Linked DNA regions of Homo sapiens: region 1 is linked to region 2. Evidence: fine-mapped expression QTL. Tissue or cell type: left ventricle. Region 2 holds a variant in brackets; the other region holds the start of a gene. All regions are shown on one strand. Distances are from middle to middle.

Region 1 (4,408 bases), 45 kb before region 2:
TAAAGAAAGAAGTTAACAAAAAAAGAGCCTAAATAACCAAAGAGATCCTAAGCAAAAAGAACAAAGCCAGAGGCATCACATTGTCCAAATTTAAACTATACTATAAGGCTACAGTAATCAAAACAGCATGTGCTGGTTAAAAAAACAAAAAAAAACAAAAAACAGCAGACACATAGACCAATAAAACAAACTAGAAAGCCCAGAAATAAAGTCACACACTCACAACCATCTGATCTTTCACAAAGATGCAGAAAGGACACCCTATTCCATAAATGGTGCAGAGATAGGTCATTAACCATATGCAGAAAAATGAAATTAGACACTTGTCTTTCACCAGATACAAAAATTAACTCAAGATGGATTAAAGATTTAAATGTAAGACCTCAAACTATAAGAATCCCAGAAAAAAAAAAAAAACCTAGGAAACACCCTTCTGAACATTGGCCTTGGGAAATAATTTATGACTAAGTCTTTGAAAGCAAAATTTAGTAAGTGGGACCTAATTAAACTAAAAAGCTTTTGAACAGCAAAAGAAACTATCAACAGGGTAAAAGAAAACCTACAGAATGAGAGAGGAACTTAAACAATTGAACAAGAAAAAGTCAAATAACCCCATTTTTAAAAATGGGCAAAGATATGCACAGACACTTCTCAAAAGAAGACATACATATTAGCCAACAAACATATGGAAAAATATTCAACATCACTAATCATCAGAGAAATGCAAATCAAAACCACAATGAGATACCATCTCACACTAGTCAGAATGGCTATTATTAAAAGGTCAAAAAATAACAGGTGCTGGTAAGGTTGCTGGGAAAAAGGGAACACTTAAACACTGCTGGTAGGAATGTAAATTTGTTCAGCCACAGTTTGAAGATTTCTCAAAGAATTTAAAGAAGAACTGCCATTTAACCCAGCAACCCAATTACTGGGTATATATTCAAAATAAAATAAGTCATTCTACCATAAAGTTACATACACTTGGATGTTCATTGCAGTACTATTCACAATAGCAAGGATATGAAATCAACCTAGGTATCCATCAGTGGTGGACTGGATAAAGAAAAGGTGGCACACGTACATCACAGAATACCATGCAGCCATAAAAAAGAGTGAAATCATGTCCTCTGCAGTGACATGAATGCAGCTGAAAGCCATTATCCTAAGTGAATTATCACAGGACTAGAAAACCAAATCCCACATGTTTTCACTTATAAGAAGGAGCTAAACATTGGGTATTCGTGGACATAAATATGGCAACAAAAGAAACTGGAGGCTGCTAAAGGGGAAGGAAGGAGGCAGAAAAGGGTTGAATAACTATTGGATGCTCACTATTTGATTGACGGAATCACTCACACCCCAAACCTCAGCATCACACAATATACCCAGGTAACAATCCTGCACATATACCCCTTGAATCTAAAATAAATATTGAAATTATTTTAAAGAGAGATTGAGGTTCAGTGGTAGGACAAAATAATAGAAAAATCAGTGGCTCAAGATCCACCTAGTAGGTAGAGCCAAGACTAATTATATTCTTATCACATGCTGGGAATGCACCATTACTTCCACTTGAACCTATTCTTTTCTGTCTTCCACTCTAACATGCAAACTTGGAGTAGGTCATTGAGTTCTATGAACCTTGGTAGTATCGCCTGTAAACTAACGTTATTGGACTAGATGATCTCTAAGCTCCCTATTCTAATGGCCCCTGCTTCTATAAATAAGAGGTGAGCAGGTTCTTTTAACAATTCTTGAAAAGTAACAAGTGAGAAAGCAATGCTCAGAGATCATCAAGTTGGGCTTGATCAACCCTAGCTAATGATTACCACACTTTAGTGTGCAGCAAAATCATCTGTAGTATGCTTAGGATTCAGGCTGCGTATGTGGGGAATATAGCAGAGTTATGTATATAATTACTTCAATCTCAGTGTTTTAAGTTCTCAACTGAGGAGCAAAAGGTCTCAGCCTTTTTATATAGGGCCTTCTCTCTCCAAATAGTTGAAAAAGTTCCAGAAGTACCCACATGTACCATTTAAATGGCCCCTAACCCTCATCAGGATTGGACCTCTTATAAAAATCACTTTTTCAGTCTCCAAGGGAGGGATTAGTAAGGGAAGAGTTCACCAAACACCACGAAAGCAACTCCTTACAGCTCAGGTCTGGGATCTTCCAGTGATGCTGGTCTCGGGCCTCTGTCCCCCTACAGGTGCTCATTTGGGATCATTGACTGTTAGCCCTGGGATGTGTGTGGCTTATCATTCTCTCCAGTTAATAGAGAACTGCTTTCCCTTTTCCTGTACAATTTTATAAGATTATCTCAGAGTAAAGCTGTTTTGAACCCAGACAACAGTGGGGTTTTTCTGTTTGTTTTTTCCCACCCCTCATGAGACTTATGCAGTTATGTTTATCTTCCTTGAGCACCTAGAGCTCATTGGTGGTGGAGGGTGTCTTACGGCATAGGTGGCCTCTCAGAGTCTCAGCAAGGTCACTCTTTTCCATATGTAATAATGAGCCATTGTTCTATTCATCATGACCTCATAGAGCCTTTTCTTTTTCTCAGGTCTCATTTACTTCCTCTTTTTTTTTTCCTTTTCCTTTTCCTATACCTTCCTTTGGTCCTTATAAGTATCCAAATTGCCCTGTAAGTATGAATTTTACAATAATGTCCTCAATTTGGTATATCAAGACTGATCTTAGTAGTTTCCTTGCACTAGGCACGTTCAGCTTAAAAACAAAAAGTGCAATCTATTTTCAATAGGAATAGATAATGTTGTCCAAAAGCCTGAGGATAACAGTTAAACTCATTGAAAATCACTAAAAAGCCCTTTAAAGGCTACTATTTTCTTTAATGACATTTTTTCTTAGTGTTGGATGCCCCCTACCACCAGACAATTGGTAATAGGATTGCAACTGGTATAGGGAAGGTGGAGGGACTGAGGAGAAAAGAGAAATTGAATTTATGTGTCTCCTTCTTAGCACAGCCTCAAATTTCTTTTTCAGAAAATAACTTCTGCACATGCAGCATTAGGAAGCAGTGTTTCCCAACCACTACATTTGAATGGTGAGTACCCAACCCAGAGGTCTCAGGAACCTACTAGATTCCCAACTCTGTCATGATTTTGCACCAAAGGGCACTTAACTTATTTGTGGATGTAAAATGAAGAGAAAGATGCCTGCCCATCAGAAGCCAGCACCATGCTCCAGGCATAGGGCTTCAAAAAAACAGAGAAGATTCAAAAATGAGGATTGTCATCTCAGAGAAGTTTATGAAATTATTAAAATTTGCAAAACAATTTTAATCCTATCCAGGGGTCAGGAGCTGCTCATCTTCCATCTGAGGGACTGGGCCAGGGACAGTTTTATCGAATGTGAATCTAGGCATTGCACCTCCATACATGACCATCAATGTTTACAGTTTTCTTTTCTGCATTTACTCTGGTTTCACCTTTCATATGGGACTCCTCTGATCTTCAATTCTCTCCCAACTCATGTCTTACCAGGCTGGCTCTAACATCTGATAACTGACATCATCTGGCCCTATAACTTCTCTCTCTCATGAATAGGCAGTCAAGGTCTGGCATATCCTGACTTCTGTAATCAATTGTTGTGATGAAAAAATTCATTTAAACAAACATAGAAGTGTCAGAAACATTTTTAGGAAGGCAGAACTGACCCTGGAAACAGAATAGGAAATGATGACAACATGCCAACTCGAAAATAATGTAAGTTATTCTACAAATAAAACCTAGTCAACATGAACAAATGACTCAGCTGTTTCTCCCAACAATAGCTGTAGAAAAAAATTTTTAAATGTTGAAAATATAAATATTTGGGTAATTACCCACTGCCATTACTCCACACAGTGTCTGGATTTTCAGCTTTACCTTCTCGTCAGATGAAAGATTCTTGAACTGGTATGTGAGTTCCGCATCTTCTTTTTAGAACTATTTAGACAATGCTCAACTTACAAAGAAATTGCCACTACTCCTGTGTGAAAAAAGGGCACACAGGAGAAGTAGTGGCAATTTCTTTATAAGTTTAGAGGAACTCTGCTAGTTGAGAGGAACTGCTCAAGTTTCTCTCAACTAGCAGACTTTCCTGGACTGCCTGAATCCCTGTCTGCCGTAAGAAGAGAATTTCAAAATGAACTGGTGCTCTTGGAGAGTTCCTGGGTTCAGAAGCGAGGAAAGGGAAGAAGTTTCAAGACCTATGTGTATCAATTACTAATTTTTTTTGCAATTAAATCAAAAACTCTGGTAACAAAAAACATTTGTTTCCTTAGCAAGAAATTCAACAGGAGGACTGAGAGAAAGGCCCCAATTTAGCAACCGGGAACCCAGAATCAAATAGGTTCAGCGGACTACAGTAGAATGGTCAGGGTAGAGACCATGTTGCAATGGGT
Region 2 (4,408 bases):
AAGCTCCCCTTTCTCCCAAATTGGGAAAATTTATCAGTCTATGGAGATAAATCTCTGACAAAGTCAAATAAATCAATGAGCATACAATTGCTTATTATGGGAGCAATGGGCAAGAGCAGAAAACAAAAATAGCCATTAATATTCCTCAGGTCTGAGATCAAGTTAAAACCTTATAGAAACTAATCAAAGCTTTCACCTTTTTATATTTGTACCTGGCTCTGTTATTATTAGAGTTATATATAAGTGCTTTTCTGAAACATATGCAAATATGATTGCCCGAATGGCAGAGGCATAATGTCAAGCATTCTGCTTTCATTAACAAATCTATCAGAACTTGCCCCTTAGCTTTATCACTAAGACCGTTAGTGTCTTTAAGTATTAAATAATCATAATAATAAAGAAGGAAAATGTTGTATATAATTTGCAGAGGTGCTATCTGTATTCATTAGGATATTATTTCAGCTGTTTAAACAGAGACCAAATCACAATAGCTGAAAACTAGATAAAAGGTTATTTCTCTCATTAAAGTTCAATCGATAGGTTCAGCAGGTACACACTGTACTCCACAAGATCACCCAGGGATCAAAGCTCCTTCTATCTTGTTTTGTCATTTCTTACAGTGTTGTTCTTGTCATGGTCTAAACCAGCTTACCCCACTGCCACATTTATCCATCAGCCTATGGGAAAAGGGAAAAAGGATGTGGAAGGTAAGCAGCTTCCTTTTGGGAACATGATCTAGAATTTTGGACGTTATTTCTGCTCACATGCCATTGGCCAGAACTTGATTGTGTGGCCACACCTTGCTAAGAGAAACTGTGAAATGTAATTTCTAATTGAACAGTCATGTGTCCACTTAGACCTCAGGTGGTTCTGTTACCAAACTTCACCGTGCCACATATACAACTTCTATCCTACTTAAAAATATATATTTTAATAATCATTTCCCCATGCTGTTAATAAATCTTCATGAACATCATCTTTAATGACTATGTAATGGTTGTACCTATGAAAGTATTTCCCTGCTGTCAAACATGTAGGTAGTTTCCAGTTGGGGATTTTATACATAGTACTGCAGTTAATATCTGCCATATGAATCTTTATTTGCTTTTCTGGTTATTTCCTTGGTATTTATTCCTACAGGTAAGACTGTTTACTGAAAAGTTATACCAATTAACCTTCTCCTCAGAAGCAAATGAGGGGGCTACATTTTACACCACCATCACTTGCAATAATTTGGTCTTATTTTTTATCTTTGCAAATTTGAACAATTTAAAATTATATCTAATTATAATTTTAAATTTCATTCCTTTAATTATTAGTGCATTTATTACTCATGAATTTTAACATGTTTCTGGTATTTATTAATTATTTGTATTATTTCTCTTAAGAATTCATCTTTGCCCATTTATTATCTTAGCTTTTTTCCAACTGTAGAACAAGATAGTAATAGTACCTGCATAATAGGGTATGGTGAGAATCAAACAAGAAAAGGAATGACAGAAACTTTGTTTCTTCTGGTTTCTTCTGAACAAGTTCTTCAGACTTGGGCTCAGTCTATGTTGTAGCTACAATGGAGTGGTCTGAAGAGCCCTCATCACTCTGCCGCACAACCCCATCTTATTTTCTTCATCGTACTGATGATGATCAAAGATTCTATTTTTCAATGGTTTACTTATTTTTGTCCCTCCCCTTCCCCACTAGAACCAGGCCCTGGTCTCTCTTCTCTACTCATATTTCTTTATCACCAAAACAGCATCTGCCACACAGTAGATGCTCAATTAATATTTTCTAGATAAATAAATAAACCTCCTTCCCTCACTGCCAGAATCTCTTGACCTTGTTAAAAACTTAGGCATAGTCTTCAATTACCTCTTTGACAAAGACAAGATGTGATGCCCCCAACAAACCCTCCCACATTCATGCATACTCACTGAC[T/C]CATGCTTCTAGGCTCTTCTTGCCTCAGCCCCCATCTGTCACGCTTACAATCCCAATTCAAAGTGCCACCATCAGTTGCTCTCTAACATTCCACTGAACTGCATCACACATCTGGCATGGTTTCTACTAAAACATACAAGTTTCTAATTAGGAGTAGTCTCTAATGTAGTCTCTAATCAAGAATGAAAAGAGAAGGCAAAAAAGAGGAGAAGAACTCTGATCTGGCTGACTATAAAATGTTATCCTCATGCAGAAAGGAATGTGGCTGCCTGACTTTCTGGTTGGAATCTGAGAGCTAGCAACAGGCTGTGTTGGTAACAGAGAGCTTTTTCATATCCTCTGCCAGATGATGTGTACTTTTCCACACCACAGGGTGGAACAAATGGAATCCATGACTGTGCTTCTCAATCCAACACCACTGATGTGGCAGGATTTGGAAATTCTCAAGTCCAGCACGTAGTCTTTCCTGCTTATCAGAGCTTATCCTGCTTATCAGAGCTGCTGCAATTAAAAAATATATACTTGTACATTTTGAGATGGATTTTCATGGGGTGTTAGGAGAGAACAGATGTGGTCCCTCTATCTAGAATAAAAGTCTAGTTAATGTCAAATTTTAAATTTGCTTTATTTAGCATGCAGTAAGAGGTATCGTACATTTTTTTCTTCAATGACTTGTCCTGTTTTACTTTTGTTGCTTCAGAATTAATATGAATAGTTTCAAATGCATTTTAATATTTGAAAATTAATTCCACTTTAATTGGCAACTATTATGGTCTATAGGAATAAACGTTTTTGAGACCTAATAATTAAGGAATTAAATTTTAGAGTCTCTTTGACAAATTAAAAAGCAGGGAGAACATATTAATTGTTTTTGGAACTTAGGTCTGAATACTCCCTAATAAAAATGTGAGCTATCTTTCTGAAGTTCCCATGGAAGGCATACCTCCAGTTCTCTCAATTCCGAAGCCTCTCTCAAACTCTGCTTCTCTTCCTGCACATACTCAGTTCCTTTCTGAATTGAATGGAAGTCCTCTTTGGTAAACCTACTTCAAAAGTATGTTCTGACCACCCTTAACCCCAGATCTTCCCATCTTGAAACAAGGTAAAATACCCTCTTCTCTCATTGTTCTATTTAAAAGTGTCTATAAACTCATGAAAAGACTGCATGTTACTTTAGAGTCACACAAGACACATTTTTTACTGGAGATTCACTGGCAAGGGAATAAGTGGTTGGCCAGATAAATCTTTTCATGTGTCCCATTGTCTCACTATGTCCTAAATGTTCATTCAACGAGGCTGTCTATTGTGGCCAACATTCAGCATGCCTGCAACTAAAGCAGACTTTGTTGTTACTTCAGTCTTTTCCAGATACGGCCTGGGATTTACATCTGGGGAGCAAGGATATAGCAGCCCAAGAATAATTAGATGGGGCAAAATATTTACCCTGATGAATAAGGCACTGACATGGCAAGCAAACCAAAATATCCCCAGTCACAGATACAATGACAAACTCTCTCTCCAAGTCCTCCTGTCCTACTGTTGTTTGAGTGATTATACCTAATTCCATCTCAATTCCTCTCAATGTTCCTCACAAATTGATGACCTAATACTTCATGCCAGGATATTCTTGGTTATACTGGATTTCTAAGGCATTTTAATTATCATTATGCGTTCAGGGATACTGATTTCTACAATACAGAAAATGTTGAAACTTACAAGTCTGTGAAACCAGAACTTACAAAACCTATCTTGTTCTGAGTAGCATTGAAACTGTCAAGGGATAAATTGGTATTTAATAAAATTATCTTTTTATTATTACCATGGGAACTCTCCACAGTACACAAATACAGATGCTGACAAGGAATAAAATACCCAGCACCTCTGGCATATATTAATATAAAGGCAACGTAAAAAGACATACAAATATACAAAATTCTAAAATAACTACTCAGGACAATGTTTAAAAGTTTCCAAGGTTTTCAGTTTAGAAGACCAATTTTTTACAAAGTTCTAGTATGTCAACAAAAGTGGGTATCAGTAAGACCTAGCCCAGTAGCTAATGAATCTGGAAAATTCAATCTAAACAGGACTGTCTTTTTTCCATAGTAATTTAAAAGACATTACATATCAGATGTTCCAAGATTATTCTTCAGAAGAGTTCAGAGAAATGGCTTTGATAATGACAGCTTTGAATGTGGGCAGATCTTCATTTCTAAGAGGAAATCTGAAACTAGGTTGTGGCAGTGACAGTCACAGGATCCTACAAGCAAGGTCACTGTTAGGAAAGTCAGTAGCATGCCATCCTCTCAGCTGATAGGAATGGGGCCTTGGGCCTGAAATACTTCCTTACCAAGAGATAAAGAGTCCTCACGGCCTGTGCTGGACTTGTCGCCTTGGGTGGGAATATCTTTCCCTGTTTCAGACTCAATGTATGCTCCTTTGTTCTGCATAAGCATGTGTGTTATTTGGCACC

Which allele goes with the higher level. Positions count from the first base shown, and alleles are read on the strand shown. Sizes are in standard deviations (SD) of each study's normalised expression.
With allele C in place of T in region 2, the expression in left ventricle of the gene that starts at base 2,572 in region 1 is lower (moderate effect, 0.66 SD a copy in GTEx).

The links.
Region 1: it holds the start of LINC02286, and the variant in region 2 is fine-mapped to the expression of LINC02286 in left ventricle (GTEx, PIP above 0.99).

The regions. Positions count from the first base shown.
Region 1 is chr14:25,154,427-25,158,834 of GRCh38, reverse strand. LINC02286 (long intergenic non-protein coding RNA 2286) reads left to right here and starts at 2,572. Exons shown (of 5, transcript NR_184204.1): 1 at 2,572-2,647; 2 at 3,007-3,067.
Region 2 is chr14:25,109,071-25,113,478 of GRCh38, reverse strand. No RefSeq gene overlaps it. Among named protein-coding and RNA genes, the nearest start is that of LINC02286, 45 kb to the left of the region's middle. The variant T/C (reference allele first, on the strand shown) is at 1,936.